Homo sapiens: one gene and its partner. The protein of the gene in region 1 interacts with the protein of each later gene in a pairwise test. Each region holds a gene or a part of one and is shown in the gene's direction. Other genes may lie near its edges. The genes, in order: MYT1L and TNIK.

The links.
Region 2: the proteins of MYT1L (region 1) and TNIK interact in a two-hybrid assay, tested with the Homo sapiens proteins (2 studies listed by IntAct).

What each region holds. Positions count from the first base shown.
Region 1 is NC_000002.12:2,328,178-2,336,275, reverse strand, and holds the start of MYT1L (myelin transcription factor 1-like protein), read left to right. Parts: upstream 1-5,000; 5' UTR 5,001-5,309; intron 5,310-8,098. UniProt on the Homo sapiens protein: Transcription factor that plays a key role in neuronal differentiation by specifically repressing expression of non-neuronal genes during neuron differentiation.
Region 2 is NC_000003.12:171,079,400-171,086,681, reverse strand, and holds part of TNIK (TRAF2 and NCK-interacting protein kinase), read left to right. Parts: intron 1-1,452; coding exon 1,453-1,564; intron 1,565-2,356; coding exon 2,357-2,527; intron 2,528-4,287; coding exon 4,288-4,431; intron 4,432-7,029; coding exon 7,030-7,164; intron 7,165-7,282. UniProt on the Homo sapiens protein: Serine/threonine kinase that acts as an essential activator of the Wnt signaling pathway. Recruited to promoters of Wnt target genes and required to activate their expression. May act by phosphorylating TCF4/TCF7L2.

The sequences.
Region 1 (8,098 bases):
CTGAGTCTCAAGGGTGTGCAGGTAATGTGGAAAGTTTTGTTGCAATATGCGTATTTTTGAATTTATTGGGCCACTGAGGGTGAAATGAAAGGTATTTACTTTCACAAAATTGCAGACATTTTATAAAATTATAGACTTTGAGTAGAATAAATACCTTCTATAGATTATCTTAGTTTGCTGGTTATAATAATCTAAACCAGCAGTACCCAACCTTTTTGGCATCAGGGACTGGTTTCATTCATGGAAGACAATTTTTCCACAGAACGTGTCGGGGTGGGGAGGTGTTTCACCTCAGATCATCAGGCATTAGATTTTCATAAGGAGCACACAACCTAGATCCCTCACACACACAGTTCACTATAGGGATCACACTCTCATGAGAGTCTAATGTCGCCACTGACTTGTCGGAGCTCAGGCAATAATGCTCACTTCCCCACCATTCACCTCCTGTGGTGCGGCCCAGTCCCTAAGAGACATGGACTGGGGTTGGGCACCCCTTACCTACATCTTAAATTCTCAATGCTCTTTTAGATCTCAGAATTATATTTCATATTTATATCTATATATTTTGCCAATAAATAACCAGTTCTATAAAATCAGGCCAAGTGATCTGAATACAGATGTTTTCAACTCTACCTGCTCCAGACTCCCCTAATATGGGTTTATACTGAATAGAATGGTCAGCCTGGGATAGCTGCAAAAATAACGCATGAGCTCTGAGGTTCATGGTCTACCCCTTGTGGTCCAGTCATTTCACCGAGATTACACAACCAAATTCTATCTGACCACAACTATTCTTGATACCTCAGCTCTTCTTCATGATATGTCTCCTAAATTTCTTTCTCATTATTCTATTTAGCAAATTAACCACCAACACCTTATTTCTTTTATCTATTTGCTATTGAGTCACTCTATAGATGTTTTGATTAGTTGAAGCTAATTCCCTGTAATGAAAATGGGTTCCCCATCCTTATCATTGATAAATTAATAAACCACCCCCTCTCTGATATATAGCTAACTTGGAAAGTTGTTCCCCAATACAGTGGCGGAGGGCTATGTTAGTGCCTGATTTTGCATAGTGTACACTCTGATATAGTAATATCTGGATTCCAGGTTTTACCAATTTACTACCCAACTATAGCAATTCTATGCTGTTTGCTCCAGACCTAAATTAATCTCAGACTCCCTTTAGATGTCACAGCTCTCCATCACTGGTGCAGACATAATTCTGAAGAAAAGGTCATGAAGTCATCGTCATGCTTTCCATGAAGGTCTAGTTCCCGGCTCCTCACCTGGTGTGCAACATGGCACCTGAAGAAACGTCACGGCTCCTTTTTGTTTCTGGTCTCATGATGAGACCAGAGTCCAGAGAACAGAAAGGAAAGAGATTGAACTTTCTATACTATGAGAGATCAATCTATCGTTTGTTAAAGTGATCAGCATATGTATCCTACAGTTGGAAATACATCCTAGGTTATAACTTGTGTGTATTTCCACACAAAAAATTATATGGGCTTTTTTTCTTTGTACTAAATTGGAGGACATACCCATTAGAAGTGGCAATATGTTCCAATTTCTTTTCTCTTACAAATAAATAAATACATACATAAATAAACAAAATTAATGACATATGTATTTCCTAATACCAAGGGCTTTAACATGTGGAATAAACTAATACATGAAGTACAAAATATATTAGAAATAATTTAAGGAGGCAGGTGACAGATACTTAGAGACAAAACATTTGGTTATACGGTTTAATCGCAAACTACAGATTTTTAATCTAAATGGTCATTTGAGTATTCCCCAGTTCTTCTACATCATAAAGGATTTTATGGTACCTTACTGCAGAGTACTCGATATCATTTTTGAAGAAATCATACTGTATCAAGTGAGCTACAATGTAACTGCAAAATGCAGACTGCAGTGTTGCTCTGCTGTGGCTCTGTGGCTTCATGATTCATTCATTTTTCCTCTTCTCTTGAGCCATTTGAGGGCTGGTATCTCAGCTCTAAAAGTCATGCAGAGAATGGGTGGAAAGAATACAAATGCTTCACTGGAGCCCGATTCAGGCTGGGGCAGTTGTTGTCAACACGATGAGGTTGAATGAAATGCAGTGACAGTGTGGTAAGGGAAGACGTGTTCTTTAATGCTGCTGGGTCCAGGGATGCCTTACCTTAAGGGTAAAACATTAGATACTATGCTTATCAACACAGCAGCCTGTCATTGCAGTGAGTTACACCTACAGCTTAAGGTAACCAAAGCTGTTGAAAGAATATTGTGCCTGCGTGTGTGTGTGCAGGTGCCCCATATCAAATATACATTCTGTTTTCATAGACATGCACAAATGTGTAAGAAAAACATATACATGTATAAATCTGTGATTTAAAATATTGTGTCAGTATTATTTACAGATTTCTTTCTTCTTAATGTAAGGTAAGGTATGTGGGGGTGAATTTTAACTAAGAATTTATTATTAACACAACTATGATAAACTCATAGGGAATGATTACATGAATATGTGTGTATATATGTGTGTGTACATACATATATATTCATTTAATTTGAACTTTATTTTTTTAAGTACATTTGGAATTCCTTGGAAGTAATAATATAATGTATATGTAAACGCCTAAATAATACCCAGGAGGTCACGATTTGACCTAAACACTCGCATTTGCGTGGGAATTTTATTGTGCTCACTTTTTTTTTAGAGGAATGCTTTGTCCTTTACAAAATGGACAAATACTCCCACTGTACTGCAGTTCCAGTTCTATAATCATTTTGGAGGCGCTCTTTACCCCGTGGTGACCACAACACGAAGAACCGTCCTTACCCACATGCTGCTTGCCTGGGGAGCTCAGGATCAGTGTCTTACACACAGAAGGATATATGCTCCCATTTTTTTTCCGCCGACTGTAAATGACTCCTATTCTTTGCTCCACAGAACATCCGATGTGGTGCCCAATCAGCTGAAAAAGCTGCACAGACGTCATTAGTTCCGTGTGTGTGTGTGTGTGTGTGTGTGCAAGAGAGAGAGAGAAAGAGAGAGAGGAGACTGCAGCTGCCTTGCCGCGTGCCGAGTGGAGTCTCCATTAGGGCAGCGCTATTGATTTCTGATTCACACTGCAGCAACAGGGCTAGAGCTCAGAAGAAAAAAAAATCACGTCTCAGAAACAGGAATTACAAAGACAAAAATAAGTAGATAGATAGTTTTATACAAAAATCAAGCATCTGTTACCAAAGGAAAGCAAAACTGACAATTTAGCAAAATTTAAAGACTGTTTATAACATAGAATAAGATGTATAGGAGAAGTAGAGTAAAATGAGTTTAGAAAAATTATTCGTTCTAATTTTTCAACCATTTTTTTGAGAGGTGATAATGGTCTAATTTCCAGAATGCCTTGAAAAACCCTGGAATACTCGGCAGAGGTGCTGCAAAGTAAAGCTTATTTGAGGGCAATCTTGAAGCTATGCCTGAGAATTTTAAACAACAAAATATCCAAGATTTATTTTTTCAATTGTGTTCGATTATTTTATTAGCTAGTAGCTTTCTCTGTTTTAATTCTCTGTGTTGCATAATATCTAGGATACAGTAACAGGCTGGTTGCAAATGCTCGAAACAGAAATAGGTTTCTTCATAGGCTGTGTTTCAGCATGTCCAACTGTGAGCCTGTGAAGCAGAGCATCGGAGTTCTCTCGAGGTCTGTTGCTTCAGATTTGGTTAGAAATTATTGAATCTGGAGTGTAAAAATCTTGTCTGGGCCTTTTAGGCAGCTTGATTTTAAAACTAGCCCTTCTGCCCCAAGACTTATCAACCGCCCCCCCACCCTGTCCCAAAAGAAAAGCTGAAGTAAGTTCAGTGTTAAAATAATGGTGCTGTCAGGCAGGCAGTCTGCATGTGAGCAGCAGAAAATTAGAAGAATAGAACCATCCATTCTCGTTTCCCCCCGCGACATGCACGCACACATACGTGCACACACACACACACACCACACACACACACACAGACAACACCAGTCAGTGAAGGGGGAAAAGGGTGATACCTTTTTAAAAAATGAAAGGCAGTAAGCCATTATTAGCAAGAGCTATATTGAGCATGCTTGCCAGACAAGCAGCAAAGCTGAGCTCCAGTTCCGCCCAGACATGTGCCTTGCCATTTTCATTTTAATCAGCCTGCTCAGGATGGCTGCTGATTCATTTTGCAGGATGTCCCCCTGGGAGCCAAGGTGGAAGCCTGAGGCGAGCTGCTATTGCATCAATGCAGCACATCAGAGCGAGAGCGCGGAGGCAGAGGGAGGAGAGAAAGCCTTCAGCACCGCATCCCGATTTCAATATGGCTAGTTAGAAGGTCCTGCATGAAACCGAGTCTATTGCAGAAAACATAATGAAAGGAAAGGAAAAGAAAAAAGTCACATTGTCATTTCATTATCCAACTATTCTCTCCCCCAACCCCTTCTTGCCACCAACAGACACACACACGTACACATTTTACAGTGACCATGAAAGATTTCAAGCCACTCTGTGGAAGTGTGTGTGTGTGTGTGTGTGTGTGTGTGTGTGTGTACTATTTACCTGGTAACTAGCTGGGGTGGTATACCTGATTTAGCTGGAGACTTTGATTTGTAGGACTGACAACCTTATTATGCAGTGAGTTTATTATTGATATTATTCTGCTCTCGGTTGCCATGGCCACCTTGTGAGAGACATTCAATTTTCTCTCTTCCATCATCATTATCTATGAGGCCATCTGTTGTGGAAAATGAATTCAGCCTCATTTGCATGACTGATAAGCAATTTTTTTTTTTATCTATTTAACAGAAGGTCATATGCCGGGGATTTGGAGCTTGTGAAAAAAAAATGTGGAAAAAAAAAAAAGCCTAGGAGAGGATGAGTGGGAGCGTGTGCATGGGGGTGTGTGGAAGTCAAACAGATCCCTGAGGCCTGCGAGCCTATCGCGCTGCATTTGTCATTCCTGCCCGGGCGACATTTTTTTTTTCCCTAAGCTACTGCACACTAAACAGTGAGAGAGCTTTTCCCTGCAGTCTTGTTGAAGCACCCCGGGTTTTTTGCTCATTGTTGGTGGGTGCATTTTAATTTTTTCATTCCCTGGACTATGGGTTATGATATCCATACTCACTGAAGACAAAAAGCCACCTTTTCTGCGTCTTGGTGGCATGCATGTGTCTCATCATCCTTTCAAACTTGTGGTGGAACAGGGTTTTCTTCCCTGTCTGTGTATTTTGAGCCAGCACAGTTACCAAAATTGAACTTGTCTTTCGCTTGTGAGCGGTTGTGGTCATTGTGAGGTACGTGATGTTCGTTAGGTTAATTTTTCGGGGAACTTAGTGAGCAGGATGTGTTTTACCGTAGCTCAAGGGCTGAGGCTGCTATTCCATTGTCTGCTCCTTTTTAAAGTTATTTTTACAGCATGGCTGGTAGCTGAAATGTTCCTGGACTGGAGGCTTTGTAATCCACAAAAAAATCTGTCTTTAAACTAAAATGGGTATTAGGTTGCATGACTTAACTGTGATGTTGTTTATTAAGAAAAAAAGAAACAAAAACAAAACGGGGTGCATGTATGGTGTTTGGAGGATAAGAGGATACTGAAACAAAAACTTCCCAGAGACTTTACTGGATTACTTTACATTACAAATGAAGCACATCATTTTATGCAAAGGCAATTAAAATGTTAGCTATTTTGGATGAATTTACCTGATGGTAAGAAGAAAGTTGATTTATATTGTTTAAGTGGAGAAACTCAAATAAAGATTTTTAAATTTAACTTAAATGTTTGAAGTTCATAATAATGAAAGAAAATGTTATTTATAACAGAAATATGTCTTTTTGTAACACCTAAATTAATAAACTAAAAGATTAAACTCTACACTTTAGTTTTAAGATAGATCTGAATAAAGCAAAAATATATATGTAAATATTTATATGAAAGTTAGCTATATAAAATATAGAGAACAGATTTTGAATTTAGTATTAACCATGACAATTTCTTGTACCATCAAAGCTATATAAGCTAAATAATTTCTAAGTTACTTAGAGTAAAACTATTTTATATAAGAGCCTTTTTGTTCAAATGTTTATATTTTCTACTAAACAAAATTAACGTCATAGACCAAAGCATCCCAAAACCACCCTTACTGGCATATGAGGGTCTTTCTAATTGTTCATCTTCATTTAGTGTCATGTAGCTTTAAAAATAATAAAGTCATGTCTCCCATACAGATAAAAATGTAATTATTTTTAAAAGAAAAGAGTTTTATAAAATATTCCTTTTCAAAAAAAAAAACAGCATTGCATTCCTATAAGTTTTCACCTCTCAAGAACTTTGAATCCAAAGTGTTGATTGTAAGTTATAAATGCTACTAAGAGAAACATTCCAGAAAAAAAGGAAGTTTGTTTTTTCTGATTGACCTAAAAGAACATGTATGATTCTATCACCTCAAATGCAGTAAGTTAATTGCTTAAAAGTCTCCTTAAAGTTATACTTGAGTGATAAATTTTCTTTATTAACTAACATAGACCACTACTGATGTGTGTGTGTGATGGTACTTTACTTGATTGCACTTTGAAAACTCTTACCATACTATCATACACTTTTCATAAACAATAACAGTTGTTATATAATCCTTCTGCTTTTAATCAGCCATATTTCTTTATATTTTAGCTTGATTTTCAGAGAAATAAGTTTATTTTAAATATTAATTGTGCATTTAAAGAATTTAAAACAATAAAATTCTGATAGATTATGAAGATTATTTAAAGTGACATCAGCTTTCTCAGAGGACTATAAGAATCAGTAATATGAGATCTGGATCTATATTATAATATGAAGGATTATGTTGTTGTCTTTTGATCTGTACATATAGTCTTCAGATTCGTGAATCAAAATTATCAACATCTAAAAAAACCTATGAGATAGCACAGTTGATTTTTCTCTCCTCCCCACCCCCACCCACAAAAAGTTAATTACCAATCTTGGTTGGATTCTTCCTTGCCTCCCTGACATTTGACTGCTGCTAATTCACTGATTAATCTCATTAATGTGATTATAGTAGGATTTAGAGTTGGCTGCCATTGTTCTGTAGACAGTGCTATTCAGGCTGAGCACTTGCCACCTCATTCAGTTTTGCTGTGATTTTTCAAAGGCTGGTGGAGTGAGCTATTGTGAGCAGGCTTCTCTGCCTTCCCTTTCAGCACCAGGAGCTGTCCGCAGCTGATAGCGATTGCATTCAACAGTGACTGACTTCCTCCTAGTTTATTGGCAATGTGAAAATGGCTCACTTTCATCACCTTAATGATTGTGCTAGTTGAGGTAGAAGTAGGAGAAGCCTTCATGGTCACATTTGGATGTTTTGAAGATGGTGGCAGCAAAGATATCTATACTTGAACATTTTTATTTAGTAAAGACTTTCCATCTGCCATTATACACATATTTTACTCTATTTCCAAATATTCAAACATATCAATATGTTAAAAATTACTTGTATATATGTATAGTTGTGGGTTGGAAAATTGTAAACATTATTACTTTTCAACTGGAAAATTTTATCCAAATACATGTAATTATTAATAAAATTCATCTTTGAAAAGATGCACCAGGACTATCTGGTGTCACAGTAAGGTAGAAAGTATGCATGACACACAAATTTCAACTTCTCTTGAGTTAAACTTGCATCCAACAGCAGAACTTATGCCAATTTCACAAATTTGTGTTAGAAGCTGAGATCAAGGTAAAGGCCCAATGATTTGTGACCACATATGAGTGGTGTACAAAAATTATTAAAGGAATATGAGTACCTAGTCTTCTTCGGGGTTATAAAAGCTGTCAAAGCATGACCTTAGGACTATGTGGATAGTTTCAGAGAATGAGACTTCTTTAATATGCTGTTTTCACTGTCCCTGTTATGTTTTTCACCTAATTTATTTATTTATTTTTTACTCTCTTGAAAATGTTTCTATTTTGTACCTTACTCTTGAATATACCCAATTATTTCACTGTCTGATGTTTTCTGTCTGCTTTCTGTGTCAATGTTTAATAGATTAGGGAAAAGAAATAAGTGATTATGCAATTTCAAAGATT
Region 2 (7,282 bases), on another chromosome or scaffold:
CACGTAAGGCCCTAAATGTGTTTATAAAGCACATGTACTATTATTTTTGACATTGTCCACACACTAAGTTTTTATGATGCACCCTTTGAATTCTAAAGTTATAGAGTAGATGAGCTTTGCATACCCCAAGGAAAAGAACACAGTGATATACTGCAAAGCACAGCATCCTATTGTAATTTCATGCTGTGTGGGCATTTTCTGCCTGAACACCTCTCTTGGTACCAAGGAGGACACCATAAGATTGAACCCTGGTTCAAATTCTGCTGCTGCCCCAGCTCTATGTGGAAATGTTAGTGCCTGCCCTACCTCTTTCACAGACATCTTCCAAAGATCAAAAGAGAACATGTACGTGAAAGTGTTCTATTTGGTAGGGGGAATTCAACCTTGAGGAGGATGAAATGGTTTTGATTTCATAGGATGGAAAGAAAATCTTGAATTAAATCAGATTAGATCTTTGTGGTTTTCTCCTTATATGTTTAGAGGTCTTGGATGGTGGTTTTATTTTTAAATAAAAACCTAACAGTAAAACTAAAGTGAAATAACCTTTAGTTAAAGATATTTATCCAAAAAAGATGTGCTTATTATGTTGAATACAGATGTGTTTATGATGTTAAAGGACAAGAATAGAAGAAATGGACATGACTGACATTGCAGCTTATTCAGCAAAACTCAAATTTAGAATATTGTGACATAAAACCCTGATATTGAGTTTACTGTTCCCTCATCTCCTTCTGACATCATGTTTTCATGGTGCCATTCAAGCCCAAGATTCATTTTTTAAAGTAAGCCTTCAAGGTACATTGCTCACAAACGTAATATCCTCATGAAGTCCCTAAATAAGGATGTAAATGTAATTATTCTTTTAAGGAAACTATCGTGGGAAGGAAATATCTTCAATTCCAGCATAAAATCATCCCTGAATTGAGGATTTTAAAGCTTTTGGAGCCAACACCAATTCACTTGCATCACCAGGCCAGAGTAGAAGGGCTCAAAGCTCTCCTCCCCAAGAGAAAGCCCCTTGGTTTGACTCTGTTCAGGATAAAGTACTGCTGTATAGGCTTCCTTACTTAGTTTATTGCCAATTATGTCAGCTTTTCATATTGATCAAGTAGTCAATATAGGAGGTTGCTTTTACTGAAAGGGAGAGGTAAGCTCTGTCACCACAGTGATCTTACAGATTTTAAGGTGCCACATGTGGTCCAAAATGTAATTTTCTCACTACAATTCTTGCAGTCTGATAATTAATGAAGTCCTACGAATGCACAATGACTAGTGAGTAACCAATACCAGAAGAAGCTGGAGACAGGCACGCACTGACTAGAGCACTAGAATGTGAACACCTGAATACCTTGAAGAATCTGTGATCGTTTTACAGCCCAAGCACAGTATTGTTAGCATTGTTATTCCTGCAGTATTTATCTGCTCTTCTTAATCTTCTTGCTTATTGATTAGTATGGCATGGGGAGCAGCACCAAAGCCTCCTTCACCCCCTTTGTGGACCCCAGAGTATACCAGACGTCTCCCACTGATGAAGATGAAGAGGATGAGGAATCATCAGCCGCAGGTAAGCAAGAAGGGCCCTGTGTTTAAAAAACAGCTTCGTCTTCCTTTCTGGTATGACCTGATAAGGAAATTAATCCTCAGTTCAGTAGTTAAGCTGATTACTGCTTAGGTCCTATCTTAAAAGGAAGACTTTTTAAAATTATTATTTCTGTAGGACTCCTAAAACAAATGTATTACTTTCCATTTTTTTTCCCATCTCTTCTATTTCGTTTCTGGTAGACCCAGGGGTACATAGGGACCCTAGGAAAAGCTGTTCCTCAGTGATCTCTGAACATAACTAAATGTTTCCCCAAAACAATTTCTGGGTACAATGTTTTACACACATTAGGCACTTAATAAGTGTATGGTACATTGTGTTGAGTTCTAGGTGTGTGCTTCCCACCACAAAGATCAGGCTGATTTAAAGGAGTCTTGCTTTCTAATCTTCTTCAAGTAATTAATCATCAAAGTCAGCTTAGGACAGTTTTTCAACTGATAAACTGCAATTTTAAAAAGTAGATCTTTTTTGCCTATATACAAGAGTGGGGATGGTGTATTTAATTTGGGACTTTCTAGACTCTGCAAGTAGTGTCTATAAGCCTGTTTTTCTAATGAATAAAAGATTCCTTTGATGAATGACTTAGACTTTATTCTACTAAAACAAAAAAAAAGTGTAAAATAAGGAGAGTTTCAGAGTTTCCTTGCCTTTACTATAATTCAAACCAAACAAGGAGAAATCATAGTGTTTTGAAGCCCCATCTCCATAAGTTATCTTTTAAGATGTCACTGACTTCTCTGATTCTTTTTCTCAAAGCTCTGTTTACTAGCGAACTTCTTAGGCAAGAACAGGCCAAACTCAATGAAGCAAGAAAGATTTCGGTGGTAAATGTAAACCCAACCAACATTCGGCCTCATAGCGACACACCAGAAATCAGAAAATACAAGAAACGATTCAACTCAGAAATACTTTGTGCAGCTCTGTGGGGTATGTTGGTGCTTTTTTTTTTTTTTTTTTTAAATAACCACTCATTAATGAACTGACCCTCAAACATTAAAAGCCTGTGGATCTTGTCATCAAAAGAACACTGGTTGAATCCTGGGTATTAGAGACCTAACTTGGGACTATCTTGACCTCAGGAGAAACCAAAAGGAGTTTTATATGTAGAAATAGCTGATACGCTACTAGCCAGGAAGACGAGATTAGATTCAGAGCAACCTTGTCACACAATAGTGATAGGCTAAAGCCAACAAGAGAACTAGCTACCACTGAATACATTGAGTGGGCAAAGCAAAGCCTATAATGTGATCAATCAGAGGCGATTTGTGTCTGGCACTTTGTGATATACCCCACGTTCATTCTCCATGATCCATACCACATCCTGCAAGGGGAATATGAGCATAAATAATGGCATAAACCTTTATTTCAAGCTGAAAAATCAGCCCAGAGTATTTTTGTGAATTACTAAAGGTCATAACCCTAGCAATAACAAGATAAAACTTGAAAAGAACAACAAATAATTTAATGAACTTTCCCTTTTAGTTTAAAACATCAATCTGCATTTTCTCGTGAAAAAGATCTGCAGGTTTTAGCTGACCTCAAACTCAGGAGAGGCATGATGAGATTCTATCAAAGTCTTGGTCTGTGTTACTATAAACATCTCATACAGATTAAGGAAGGACATGTCCCCTGTGTACCCACTGAAAATACTAGGCTTGGATTGGGGAACCATAATTTTAAAAGGCTGAAAGCATTTGAGATGTTAGCGGGGAAGAGTGTGAAGCCTAGGAACCATTTCATGATAGAGGCTCTGTCCTCTGGAGAAGAGACAGAAGAGAACAAGATAGCCACATTTAATACTGAAAGGATTAATATATGGACAAAAAAGCAGACATTTGTGTTGATCAGAAGATAGAAGTACAAGACGTAAGAGAAGTTAGAGAGTTACATGTTCATGAATAAAGTACACTGCACAATGAGCCTCTCAATGTGTGTGTGTGTTGAGGGGTGGATGATACATTTCCCTAGCCATAAATTTTTAGGATTACAACTACCCAGACAAAGCCACTTATGTGCCTGTGCTTCTGTAATAGGGATTACTGCATGGGTGTTGGGCTGCACTAGATTTAGAGACCTGAGAAGTCCCTTAAAGTGAGTATGTCTGTGACTCTCCAGCTATTAACACTTCTCTTGAATGGGTTTATCATTTCCCTAAAAAAGAGCAAAAACTTGAGGGTATGGGGCATAAGATAGTTACATTTTGATTCAAGAAGGAGGAAGGGCCTTTCTTCCATTGGAGTATGGAAATGGAAATTCCACTGTATATTGAAGGTGGGTAGGCTAGAGACCACTGCATAGGGGTGGGGGTGAATCTTGGGGAAGAAGAGAAGTGATTTATAGGGAGAGCCAAGAAAGAAGTGGTTTTTCCAGGCAGGGAATAAAGGCAAATTATGCTAGCTTCACATCTGTGCCTAAGGCTCCTATTGACAAGGACTCTCTGCATTAGGTAGTAAATAACTAGATGTATGAATGCTGCTAACTTTATAAAAGAAAACTGTAATTTCATTACCAGAAGTACAATGATTTAATTATTATGTCAGAGCTTCTACATTCATTAGTTTATATTTACCTACTTGCCCATTAGTGTATATTTACAAGTCACAGTTTCTTAAATTTTATAGGGACTCTCGATGCAGAAGATTAAAGTTCATGAAAAGTCAGTCTTAGGGTGCTTCTTAAATTTACAGGTGTAAACCTTCTGGTGGGGACTGAAAATGGCCTGATGCTTTTGGACCGAAGTGGGCAAGGCAAAGTCTATAATCTGATCAACCGGAGGCGATTTCAGCAGATGGATGTGCTAGAGGGACTGAATGTCCTTGTGACAATTTCAGGTATGTTACTAAGATGATGAGTCCCCCAGGTCCATACAGCGGGAAAGGGATCCACCTCATTTCTGCAGAAACAGTTAGTTCTGCCCTTCCCAGCTAACAAACAACACAATAAAGTATAGCAGTATAGCCAGAGTGAGATTGCCCACATTTTGTAACACTGGGAATTCTGACCTCCAAAAAGAAGTCTCTCACCTCTGCATTAAATCTGAATTAGGCAGAGACATACCACAAAGGCTATATATTTATAGCTCTTTACCTCTGTCAGGACTCAGCAAGGATCTTCGGATGTTTTTAAGGTTTCTGCACTCCAGTTATTACCACATACAGACAGAATATCAAAATGCAGGCTTCCTAGAGGGACATTTAGTAAGCAGAAATTTCTTGGTCTCTTCCCTCAAAAATTCTCTTGCTTATAGCCCACTGATGTTTTGGCAGGTGCAGCTGGCACACTGGGTGATCAAGTCTACAAAAAGATTTGAGTGTGGGAATCATTACTGCTATGCTCTGTAGCTTTCTGATTCCCAAAAAGAGCCTTATATAGGAAAAAAAAAAAAAGATGGAGACTAAAGTGAAGGCCTTGTAACAAGTTAAAAATGCAACCTAAAAGAGGGTAGTTTTGTTGAAAGTTTTTTTTCTTTTTGGTATTTGAAGGAGTTTAACGAGTAACACCCGTCACTTCCCCTCTCATTCCATCTAGTATGGAACCAACTTGCTACTGCACTTTATAATCACCTAGGGAGATGTGAAAATCTAGGCTGCACCCCCAGACCAGAGTCAGAATCTCTGGGGGTGGGGTTTAGGCATCAGGAGCGTTCATAGTTTCTGATGTGTTTCCATTGTACAGCCAAGTTTGAGAACATGGATTTATGCTCAGCCATTGTTTCACGAAGAGACAACACAGGGATGCTGGTTTGAACTTTCCTCAAAGTTCAGCTGTACTTCCATTTTGACAAAATGCTTTTGCTTGTCACTAAACTTCCTCTTTCTTTTACCTTTCCACTGAATGCTCAGTTTCATCTCTTTTTATTCTCCCCAAATAAGGTTAACCAGGTAAATTCCTTTTGTATTGCCATTTGAGTTTAATCCCATGTAGTCTTTTGTTCTGGTTAATTGCTGTCCTGATTGCTATACTACCAAATCAAAATGAAAACTGCATATCTGCCAAAAGTGGGAATGCAACCAGAAAATTCACATTCAGACTTCATTATGTTGTTAGTGGCACATCTTCATTCTTAACAGTGTAAGAGTTTCCTTTTCTCATGAGGCACAGATAGGGAAAGGAGAAAATGAAAATAGGAGCAAAAGATTCTTGAACTAACCTTGGATTCATATTGGCATAGAAAGGAGGAAACACTGGCTCTCGTGTCCATCCTAGCTACTGTGATCAATGTGGATTCTAGGCCTTTGGTTACAAAATTGAATACTGACCACACAATGATTCCCTTAGTTTAGGTGATGAATGTGCTCTCCTGTCAAATGCATGTGTAATGCTTTACTAAGTTCTCTTCTGCTGGTATATATTCATCTATAAAATATAAAACATTTTTTTTGGGAGAGGCCGAGGCGGGCGGATCATTTGAGGTCAGGAATTCCAGACCAGCCTGGCCAACATGGTGAAACCCCATCTCTACTAAAAATATAAAAATTAGCTGAGCATGCTGGGAGCGGCACCTGTAATCCTAGCTACTTGGGAGGCTGAGGCAGGAGAATCGCTTGAACCCAGGAAGCAGAGGTTGCAGTGAGCCGAGATCATGCCACTGGACTCCGGCCTTGGCGACAAAAGTGAAACTCATGTCTCAAAAAAAAATAAATAAATAAATAAATAAAACATTTTTAAAGCCTAAGATAAAGAAAAATAAGTATCCAAAAAATAAAACCCATAGAGCTAAATTTATCATTAGTTAGGAAGAGTCATCCCAATGGACATTTTATCTGGTGCAAATCATCAAATGGAGTATATCAAGTTTTGCTACTTGTGTACTCTTCAATATTGTCTAAATATTTTATCATCCTATGAATTCTTTATTCCAAGATCACTTTACCAAACGGAAATTTAAGTTTTCAAGTTTGCATCCTTTTTTTCCTATTTTTGTTCAGTATTCCTTTCAGTGACTTCAGCACCATAAACCTGCCCAGTATAATTTTCTGAACCCATATTATCCTCTTGTTTGTTATTAGGTTATACGGTGAAGGAAAGGCAGGTGCCAAAATGCCCAGTTGCCAACACTTCTTCATGTGATTGATCTAGAATGTTCTGGAACTCTGATCACTCTGTTGAAGAGTTAGCTCTTACTAAGTTCAGCAGACACTGCTTTGCATTGGGAAGAGAGAGTAAGAGCACATGCTCAAATAAGAAACCACCTGAAGATAAAAGACATTGTAATTCTGTGATGTGTCTAAAACACGTAGAGCTATTTTAACCATAAGTTCTGGCAGAAACACCATTTTAATGACAAAGTGCTGGGGACACTGGTTATTATGCCTTCATACACACACACACACACGTAAATAAAATAAATTAGAAATAAATGGAGGTGGGGAAGGAAAAAGTGAGAGCTGTCACAGCAATTTGAAATTAAACCTCTATTATTTCAACAGGAAAGAAGAATAAGCTACGAGTTTACTATCTTTCATGGTTAAGAAACAGAATACTACATAATGACCCAGAAGTAGAAAAGAAACAAGGCTGGATCACTGTTGGGGACTTGGAAGGCTGTATACATTATAAAGTTGGTAAGTCTCAAGACATGGAATTATAAGTTTGGTCTGTTTACTCAATCAGACTTACTTAGTTAGGTTTCACCTAGTTTTTTCTATCAGATTGATGATGCATGTGTGACCAGCTTCAGAT